2 separate regions of the Homo sapiens genome follow, and region 2 is linked to region 1. The links come from fine-mapping of genetic effects on gene expression. A gene starts in region 1. The other region holds a variant in brackets. All regions are shown on one strand. Distances are from middle to middle.

Evidence for each region. PIP is the estimated chance that this variant, and not a neighbour inherited with it, causes the effect. A credible set is the group of variants that fine-mapping cannot tell apart.
Region 2: its variant is the best candidate, but not a certain one, in a credible set for the expression of TBC1D31 in whole blood (TOPMed, PIP 0.88).

What each region holds. Positions count from the first base shown.
Region 1 is chr8:123,069,758-123,075,147 of GRCh38, reverse strand. It overlaps TBC1D31 (TBC1 domain family member 31), which reads right to left and starts at 2,441. Exons shown (of 22, transcript NM_145647.4): 1 at 2,302-2,441. The coding sequence starts at 2,378. RefSeq lists a silencer at 2,389-2,538.
Region 2 is chr8:123,115,068-123,120,457 of GRCh38, reverse strand. TBC1D31 (TBC1 domain family member 31) reads right to left here. Exons shown (of 22, transcript NM_145647.4): 11 at 270-403. Among named protein-coding and RNA genes, the nearest start is that of TRM-CAT1-1, 40 kb to the left of the region's middle. The variant C/G (reference allele first, on the strand shown) is at 2,924.

The DNA of each region.
Region 1 (5,390 bases):
CTTATTTTCTAGAACACTTATTACATGTTCTGGCTACAAAATTACACAATCATTGTTCAAAATATGAAAAATATAGAAATACACTAAGAAACAAATACTCAATTATAATCCTACCATGTAGATGTAATCACAATAGTGACATTCTGCCCCTCCGATTTTTCATATAAATCACACGTAAAAAATTTATTTTAGAGCAACTTCCTTTCAGATTCTCACAGATTGCCTGACAGAGTTCCTCAGTTCTCAAACACAAGAAGAATATCAAATATTTACTGAGCACCAAATGTGTAAGACAACCTGTCTGGTAAATCTGATTCTCCCCACTGACAGCCTTAGTGATTAACTTCCCCAAGGTCACAGAGTTGGTAAACGGACATTTACTTCAACAAAATACATCTGACTCCAAGTCAGTGCTCTCTGCCCGTCTAAACAGCATGAACAATGGGTTTTAACGAACACAAAGATAAGCTATGCTTTAGTGGAAGAAGCAAACAAGACATTTGGATAATCAACCCATTTCTTTCACTTTTTGAATCTTGCACATATATCTAGATATTTTGTATCATCAAGAAAGAGAAGGCGAGTGGGCTATAACTTTTAGAATGTTTAGAGAATACCAGAGGTGGGAGTGGTATTCACACAAACTCAGAATTTGAAAATGAAAAACTTGAGGAATCCCCACTTTAGAGAAAATTTTTTATTCAATGTAGTTGAGGCAGCGGCATTGATAAAGAGGCCTGACAGTAACCAGGAACCAAACAAGCTGCTGGTAAAACGTCTCGCATCGCACTTTGGATATACAGAGTAGGCACTTAAAACTGATTTGTCGGCCAGGCGCGGTGGCTTACGCCTGTAATCCCAGTACTTCGGGAGGCCAAGGTGGGTGGATCACGACATCAGGAGATCAAGACCATCCTGGCTAACACGGTCCGTCTCTACTAAAAATACAAAAAATTAGCCGGGAGTGGTGCGCCTGTAATCCCAGCTACTCAGGAGGCTGCGGCAGGAGAATCGCTTGAACCCGGGAGGCGGAGGTTGCAGTGAGCCGAGATCGCGCCACTGCATCCGACCCTGGGCAACAGAGCAAGACTCTGTCTCAAGAGAAAAAAAAAATTCTGATTTGTCAAGAAGCAACCAAAGGATCAATAGAAAAATCACTAGAGGCCGGGCGCGGTGGCTCAGGCCTGTAATCCCTGCACGTTGGGAGACTGAGACAGGCGGATCACCTGAGGCCAGGAGTTCAAGACCAGCCTGGCCAACATGGTGAAACCCCGTCTCTACTAAAAATACAAAAATTAGCCGGGCGTAGTGGCGCGCGCCAGTAATCCCAGCTACTTAGGAGGCTGAGGCAAGAGAATCGCTTTAACTCGGGAGGTGGAGGATGCAGTGAGCCGAGGTCGCGCCACTGCACCCCAGCCCAGGCGACAGAGCAAGACTCCGTCTCAAAGAAAAGAAAAATCACTGCTAGAACAAGAAACACACTGAAACAGGAACTCAAGCAATTTCCGTGAAATCCTAGGGAATTAGGAGCAATAAGATCACTCTGCGTGCAGAAATCGAAATCCAAATGGCACCGCTTTGTAGCAAAGGCTTCCAGGGAAACAAGACAGGCTGAGCCTCAAACAGGACAGGTAACTGGGAACAGAATGAAAAGCAGCGCTGGCCGTACTAGAAGCCCCCCAGCAATGCATAATGAACGCCCCAGCCCCTACATACACGCCGATATGTAAACTCCAGAGAACCGGAAGTGTGTTTTGTTCCATCGCCGTCCCCAGCGCTTAGAGGCGTGCTTGGCACACAGTAGGAGCTCAACAAATAGTTGATGAATGCTTGTGCGTCTAAACACATCCAAGGATTTAAGGATGGATAAACTGCAGCCTTTGGAAGAGGCAGAATTGTCCTGCTCTTCCACCCCGCATCTCCTCCTGGAGTTCTGCTCCAGCTGCAACTGTTAAATACTCACTGAGCACCTACTACGTGCCAGGGACACTAGCGGGATACCGTGATCATAAAAGCAGGAGAGTCCCGGTACACAGCAAAAGCCGCAAGTTCCCAGGTCTGAGAACCACCGGCCTCCTCCTGCTCCGCGCTGTCCCGGACCAGACCCCCGCTCCCAGAACTCAGAAGGGGATCTCTGCGGACCCTGGCGTCCGGAGCCATCTGTTCCACCGCAGGTCATCCAACCCAGGGATGCGGGGCAAGGTCAGAGCCAGAACCCGGAACGCTGCCTGACGCCCGGCGTCCCCTCCTCGCCGGTCTCCATCCCCTCCACAGCCCGCGCCCTCCCGCCACGGCCTTTACCCGTCCCGCGTGGCCGGGGACGGCTTGCGGTGCCATATCTTGCCGCTCTCCTTGTTGCCTAGGTCAGTGCTCTGCATGGCGAAGCTTGCCCACGACCGCCGGCGGCCCGCTGGGTAACCGTCCCAGCGCCTTCCCGGCAGGCCCAGCGCTCCCGGCCCGGGAAATTTGAGCTCCGGCCGCGGCGGCCTAGGTCCAGCACCAGCAGGCCGTACCAACCCCCTTTCTAATAACAACCAATTGGAAGGCTGATCCCTCCCAAAATCCGCCCAAGCGGCCACTCCCTCTCTGGACAATGTAATCGACCAAAGACCTTCTCTTAGAGTCCACCTCTTTCTGAGCTCAGTCTTCCCGCCCCCGGACCCAAAGCCTTCTGGGAATCGTAGTTTTTTGCAGGTGGATCATAGACGCGAGGAATTGGCTTGGGAATTCCGCCCTTTGGGAGCCTCGTGGGGTTTTAGGCTCCCATCAGAGGCAATAAAACTCATTTTCTCCTGTGGTCCCTGCATTCCGTTCTAAATTGCTTTTAGGGATTAAGGAATTGTATAGAAATAACTAAGAGAAGCAAGGAAACAAGTGCAGAGAAGCAAGGAGACAAATACATTGAGAACTGATGGGTTCCTTTCATAGAACGTTCGGGCTCAAATGAAACTTACAGATGAAATAGTTCATTCTTCCTGACCTTTTCACCATCCTCATGGTTTTGTTTCGTTTCTTCAGTTTCGTAATCTGACAGGCCTTCCAGCATTATGATGTCCAGTCCACCAATCATGGTCCAGAAAAGCAATAATATCAACAACTGGCTGCCTCGACTTTAGCGTTCCTTTGATAAAAATTCACTTAGTGCCTCCGGAGCGCTTACTAGGTATGGGGCACTTTTCTACTATACCGAATATATCAACTCAATTAATCCTCGTAGCAAATTTACAAGTTAGGTAGTACTAATTATCTCCATTTTTAGTGCTCTATGAGGTTGTGCATTAATTTCCTGAGGCTGCCCTCACAAATTACCACAAACTTGGTGACATAAAAAAACAGAAATGTATTCTTGGGAAGTTCTTGAGGCCATACATCGGAAATCAAAGTGTCTGCAGCCTCCTTTCAGGCTCTAAGCAAGATTCCCTTACTTGTCTATTCCAGTTTCTGGGAGTTGCTGGCGTTCTCTGCTTGTGATCGCATCGCTCCATTCTCCGCTTCCATCTTCACACGTCTTTCTCCTCCTGGATGTATCTTTTCCTCTTCTGTCTGTTTCAAATCTCCCTCTGTTTTTCTCTTATAAGGAAACTTGTCATTGGGTCCATATGAATAATACAGGAATACAGGATGATCTTTTCATCTCAAAATCCTTAACTTGATTACATCTGCAAAGACCCTTTTTCCAAGTAAGGTAACAGTCACGGATTTTGGGATTAGTATGTTGACATATATTTTGGGGGGCCACCAATCAACCTGTTACAGGTAAGTACTAATATTATCCACTTTTGCAGACAAGGAAACCTTAAATCTTTCCATTCCTAGTCTCTATGTTGTTCTACAACAGAAAAATGATGTTAAAAAAATTATATGGTCGTGGTATTTGAAAAGTTCAAACTCTTGATCAGAAAAGCAAATTCTCAAAAAAAATACTAATGCAGGTTTTTAAACTTTATGTTGTTATCAAGGGGTGGCTCTGAGAGATCAGACAACTTGTAATGACCTATTGCAGAGGAAGCAACTGCAGCTCTTATTTTTATTTATTGGTTTTGAGATGGAGATAAACTACATGTATCAATGTTTGCATTATTATTTAGGAAACTTAGAATCTTAAATTTAAGATACAGTGCCTAACCTGAAACAGATTATTTCACAACATTTCTATCCCACACCATTAACCAAACAACCTTTTTTTATCGGAAGCAAAGATGAATCTGCTGAATGATTTTCTTAACTTCTCTAGCTTAACCTGTCTGCAGCTAAGCTAGTTTGGGCTGTCTCAGCCCATGTGGCCATCCTATTCAATCTCAGATATGTGATAAAGAGGTTTATATGTTAGATCTTCTGGACTCCCACTTTGTACTTATCTTTTGATTTAGGGGGCACAATTTGAAGGTCAGGCTGAAGAGATGTGTACCCACAGCTGCTAAAGTTCTACTCATTAGATCTCCCAGTTTTTACAACACTAATTGGTAGTCTCTTGTGATCTAGTTCCTTTCTGAATTATTAGTCACTCAATAACAGGTACATACTATTTATATGTATCTATCTGTATATATACAGATAAATAATGTACAGATAAATATATATACATATATATTTGGATATCCAAATGTATATATATGGATATACACACACACATGTATACACTTACAACACTAATTGGTAGTCCCTTATGTTCTAGTTCCTTTCTGAATCATTAGTCACTCAGTAACAGGTACATACTATTTTTATATATATATATATATATATATATATATATATATATATATATATATACATACACACACACATATGTTATATATATAAAATATATATACATATATAAAGGTATCTATATGTATAAAAGTATATAGTATAAGTATACCTATATACCTATTATATATATGGTATACTATATACCTATACTTTATACCTTTATATATAAAGGTATACTACATACCTATTTATATATAAAGGTATACTATATACCTATTTATATATAAATATACCTTTAGTATACAGTATACCTTTGTATAGTGTAAAGGTATACTATTTATATGTACTTTCATATGTATTTATAAAGGTACACAGTATGGACCTTTATACATTTGTTTGTTTGTTTGTTTGAGATGGAGTCTTGCTCTGTTGCCCAGGCTGGAGTGCAGTGGCGTGATCTCAGCTCACTGCAACCTCTGCCTCCCAGGTTCAAGTGATTCTCCTGCCTCAGTCTCCCAAGTAACTGGGATTACATGCTTGCGCCACCACGCCCAGCTAATTTTTGTATTTTTTTTTTTTTTTTTAGTAGAGATGGGGTTTCACCATGTTGGCCAGGCTGGTCTCGAAATCCTGACCTCAAGTGATCCACCCACCTCGGCCTCCCAAAGTGCTGGGAATACAAGTGTGAGCCACTGCACCTA
Region 2 (5,390 bases), 45 kb before region 1:
TCAGGTGATCCGCCTGCCTCAGCCTCCCAAAGTGCTGGGATTACAGGCATGAGCCACCGTGCCCGGCCTCCAGATTTTCTTCTAAATAAAAAGGTTTACATATAAATGCTTCAATTGTCTATTTTATGTTTGATACCTTATTGTTTCACACTTTCGTGACTTAAAAGTAGAGACATCTAGAATTGTTAAATGTTGCAAAGGTGCAAAGACATCAGGAAAATGTATAAGAATCCATTCTTGATCTTATACTTTAACAAGTATTTACTTACTTATGAGAGTAGCAATAACTTCAAAACAGATGAGTTGGTTGTTCTGGAATAATTTTACAAATGGAAATGCCAAGAGTGGAAGATATGGTGTGTCACTAAAAATGACAGACCAGTGAGCTAATGCAGATAAGGTTCTGTGAATAAAATAACTTAGCATTAAAATTTATTTGAATAAATAATATCTTCACATGATAAAAATTTGATACAAAAAGTATATTTGGTGAAAATTCTTCCTTGTACCCCTATCATCTAGTTCACCTCTCCAGAAGTAACCATTGTTAAAAGTATAAATCCTTTCTTAAAAAACCACAAATGGTAGTATATTATAAAAATTGTTCTGTACTTTGCATTTTTCAATTAATGGTATCTTGGAAATAGTTTATATCAGTATATGCAGAACTTCCTTACATTTTACAGATGGATATGATAGCTTCGTACCGATACACCTTCATTTCTTTTTTTTCTTTTGTTTTCCCGAAACAGGGCCTTGCTCTGTCACCCAGACTGGAATGCAGTGGCATAATCATGGCTCACTGCAGCCTTAAACTCCTAGGCTCAAGTGGTCCTCCTGCCTCAGTCTCCTGAGTAGCTGGGCCTACAGGTGTATGTATGCCACTATGCCTGGCTAATCTTTCTTGCGGGTAGAGACAGGGTCTCACTATATTACCCAGGCTGGTCTCAAACTCCTGGGCTCAAGCGATCTTCCCGCCTCAGCTTCCCAAAGTGCTGGGATTAGAGGCGTGAGCCACTGTGCCCAGCCACCTTCATTTCTTTAACATGATCTCTATCGTAGGGCATTTGCTTTCAGTCTTTTATAAGCAATGCTGTGCTTAATGCCACTGTATGTGCCACACAGTGTGTATCATTCTTCACATGAGAATACAGACTTGGAAATTCCTAAAGTGGAATTGCTGAGTCAAGAATACGTGCATTTGCAATTTCGAAAGTCAGTGCCAAATTAGCCCCCACAAAAAGTGTCTATTTACGTTCCTATGACTCGCGTAAAGGGATGCCTGTTTTTCATACTCTTGGCCGCATATTATCAATGATTTTTAAAAAACCTTTAATCTAGGTGAGAAATGGTACTTCAACGTAGTTCCAATTGGCATTACTCTTTCTATGAGAAAGATTAAGCATCTTTTCATGTTTAAGAACCATTTCTAGGCTGGGCACAGTGACTCATGCATGTAATCCCAACATTTTGGGGGGTTGAGGCAGGAGGACTGCTTAAGCCCAGGAGTTTGAGACCAGCCTGGACAACAGAGCGAGACCTCATCTCTACAAAAAATTTTTAAAAATTAGCCAGGTGTGGTGGCACACGCCTACTACTCAGGAGACTGAGGCAAGAGGATTGCCTAGGTCCAGGAGTTTGTGGCTGCAGTGAACTATAGTCACACCACTGCACTCCAACCTGGGTGACAGAGCAAGATCCTGTCTCTAAAACAAAAAACTAAAATAAATAGAAAGAACCATTTTACCACTGTAAACTGTATATTACATTGTTTATCCATTTTTTTTTTTTACTGGCTGGTCCTTTACATGTTTATTTATATAAGCGCTTCATACATTAAAGAAACCAGCGTTTCATTTGTCAGGTTTTGCATATGTTTTTTCAGTTTTACATGAGTCTTTGTTTTGGAAATTATTTTTACATGTAGAGATTTTTATTCTTATCAACCTCTTCTGGATATGTCATACTCAGAAAGGCCTTCATTACCTCTGGGATTATAATTCTCCCACATGTACTTCTAATACCTGTACTGTTAATTTCCTTTTTTTAACTTTCTGTTTTGAAATAGTTTTAGATTTACAAAAAAAACTGCAAAAATAGTAGAGTTATTGTATACCTTTGACCTAAATTCCCCTAATGTTAACAGCTTGCAAATAGTACAATGATCAGTACTAAGAAATTAACACTGGCACATGCTATTCACTAAATTATGGACTTTACTCAGATTTTACCGTTTTTCCACTGATATCATTTTTCCGTTATTTCTTTCATTTCACCAACCCCAGATTCAACATTACATGTGTTTTGTCTCTCTAGTTTCTTCCAATATGAGAGTTCCTTAGTCTTTCCTTATTTTTCATGATGATGCCATTTTTGAGGAATATCAGTTATTTTCTAGATTGTTCCTCAATTTGGGTTTGTCTGATACTTATGATTAGAATGAGGTTACATATTTTTGGAAAGAATATCACAAAAGTGATGTGCATCATATTGACATCTTATTACCAGTCATTTTATTTATTTAATTTTTGAGACAGGTTTGCACACTGTTGCCCAGGCTGGAGTGTAGTGGTGCTATCATGGCTCACTGCAGCCTTGAATCTCCACACTCAAGGAATTCTTCCATTTCAGCCACAAGTAGCTAGGACTATAGGTGTGTGCCACCACGCTCAATTAATTTTTTTTTTTTTTTTTTTTTTTTTTTTGAGACGGAGTTTCGCTCTGTCGCCCAGGCTGGAGCGCAGTGGCGCGATCTCGACTCACTGCAACCTCCGCCTCCCGGGTTCACGCCATTCTCCTGCCTCAGCCTCCCGAGTAGCTGGGACTACAGGCGCGCGCCACCATGCCCGGCTAATTTTTGTATTTTTAGTAGAGACGGGGTTTCACCGTGTCAGCCAGGATGGTCTCGATCTCCTGACCTCGT[C/G]ATCCGCCCGTCTCGGCCTCCCAAAGTGCTGGGATTACAGGCGTGAGCCACCACGCCTGGTGTACTAGTGATTTTAAATGTGCTTACTTGGTTAAGCTGTTATCTGCTGAGTTTATCTACTACAAAATTACTATTTTTCCATTTGCCATTAATAACTGTCTTGGGGGAGATATTTTAAGACTATGCAAATATCCTGTGAATCCTAGAATTTTTTTTTTTTGGAGACAAAGTCTCACTCTTTCACCCAGGCGGAGTGCAGTGGTGTGATCTGGGCTCATTGCAGCCTCTACCTCCCAGGTTCAAGCGATTTTCCTGCCTCAGCCTCCCAAGTAGCTGGGATTACAGGTGCATGCCACCATGCCCAGCGAATTTTTGCATTTTTAATAGAGATACGGTTTCACCATGTTGGCCAGGCTGGTCTCTAACTTCTGACCTCAGGTGATCCACCCGTCTTGACCTCCCAAAGTGCTGGGATTGCAGGCGTGAGCCACCGTGCCCAGGCACTCCTAGAACTTTTGTCCAGTAATTTTAGCATCAATTGGTGGATCTTGCCTCCAACAATTATCACCGTGGTGTCCCAATAGTGATTTTCTATATCTCTAATTCCTTCTATATTTATTAGAACTGTCCCTTCTCCCTCATTTATATCTTTATTTATTCAATTATTTATGTCAGGATGAACTCATGGATATTTATTTTATTCTACAAGTTATAATTGATTGTTATTTATTTTGTTCCTCAAATTGTTCCAGCTTTGGCCACTGGAAACTTTTAGGTTGAGTCACGTGCCCTTGTGACATGCCCATCCTTTCAGAGCATTTCCTTACTTTATGGCACTAAAAGATGCTTCAGGTTCATCTTGTATTTTCCCCACACCAGTAGGTGCGCTCACTGTTACCAGGGTGTCATTGTTAGGCCTTCTCGGTAGAAAGAGCTTGGCAATATATGCATGTATACTAACTCCTGCATACATGCATATCTATATTCCTTTCTGTGTCTATTTATCTGCATATACGTTAAGAACTAACACTATCGATTCCAATCAACTACTGCAAGATTCATTCTAGCCCTTTTGCTTATTTATCTTCTTTCTCTGAGAGTAAGAAACCTGGCTCTCGTCTCTATTGAGCTATTTGTATACAAAAAGTGGCTTCTACACATAAAGTAGTTTCAGACTTGCTAACTCCACATTTATTTCTAATACTTTGATGGTTTTGTTTTTTTAAAAAGGAATTAAATCTTTAGTTCAAGCAGAATTTATATGGTGTAAGATATGAGGTATGCTTTCAACTTTTTCTAGATGGCTAGCTAGTTATTCCATGTCATTTACTAAATAACCTATCTTTTCTTCATTACTTTGAAATGACATCTTTAAAAACAAGTCAATTTTGGAATGTAGCTGGGTCTATTGTTAGACTCTGCATATCTATTTATATGTCAGCAGCAATTTCAATGCTTTATAATAGCTTTTAATATTTTTAAGGCTAATTCCCTTTCATTACTGTTTAAATATAAATTATTTTTCTGAGTATACTTTATAGTTAATGTGGCAAGCAGAATAATGAAAACTGTCCCCCTCCCCAAAAGATGTCCATGCTCTAATCCCTGTAATCCATGAAGATATTATTTTACATGAGATTTTGCAGATATGATTAAGTTAAGCACCTTGGGGTGAGGGCATTAATCCTGGACTACCTGGGTAGGTCCAATCTAATCACATAGGTCCTTAATATCAAAGAACCCCTTCCTGGTTGCGGTCAGAGGGAGATACGACTACAGAGGAATGGTTAGAGAGGTGCTTTGAAGACAGAAAAGGTGGGTCTGAGTCATGAAATATGGGAAACCTGCAGAAGCTGGAAAAGGCAAAGAAAAGGATTCTCCCCAGAGCCTCTAGAAAGGAATGTGGCCCTGCTGACACTCTGATTTTAGCCCAGTGAGATCCAACCCATGGTGAACTTCTGCCTACCAAACTCTAAGGATAAATTTGTGTTGTTTTTAAGCCACTACATGTGTGGTAATTTGTTATAGCAGCAATAGAGAACTAACATAGTTAATGGAGTTAATAAGCTATGTCAGACATTTTTTATTATTCGATACAATACTCAGAACAACCCCAGGAGGGAGGGATTAGCTTCATTACTGAGCCTAGGACATGGAATTCCAGAGAATGTAAGGAAATCCTCATTTTTGGAAGGGCTAGAAATCAACCTAAATACAAGAACATATTCTCCTAAGGATAGTACTTTCATAATTACAGAAGTTACATATTCAATGCTGAGTTGCCATCTTTTGACTGACTCTCAGACTGACAACAAATAAAGACTGATAACATCCAGTGTCGGTGAAAACACAGTAACACTGGCATTTCCCAGGGTTGGCAGAATTTTCTGAGAGAGAAAGAAAAAATGAATGATTTGACCTAGTAGTTTCAATTCTAGAAGTCTACACAAAAATATTCACACAAGAT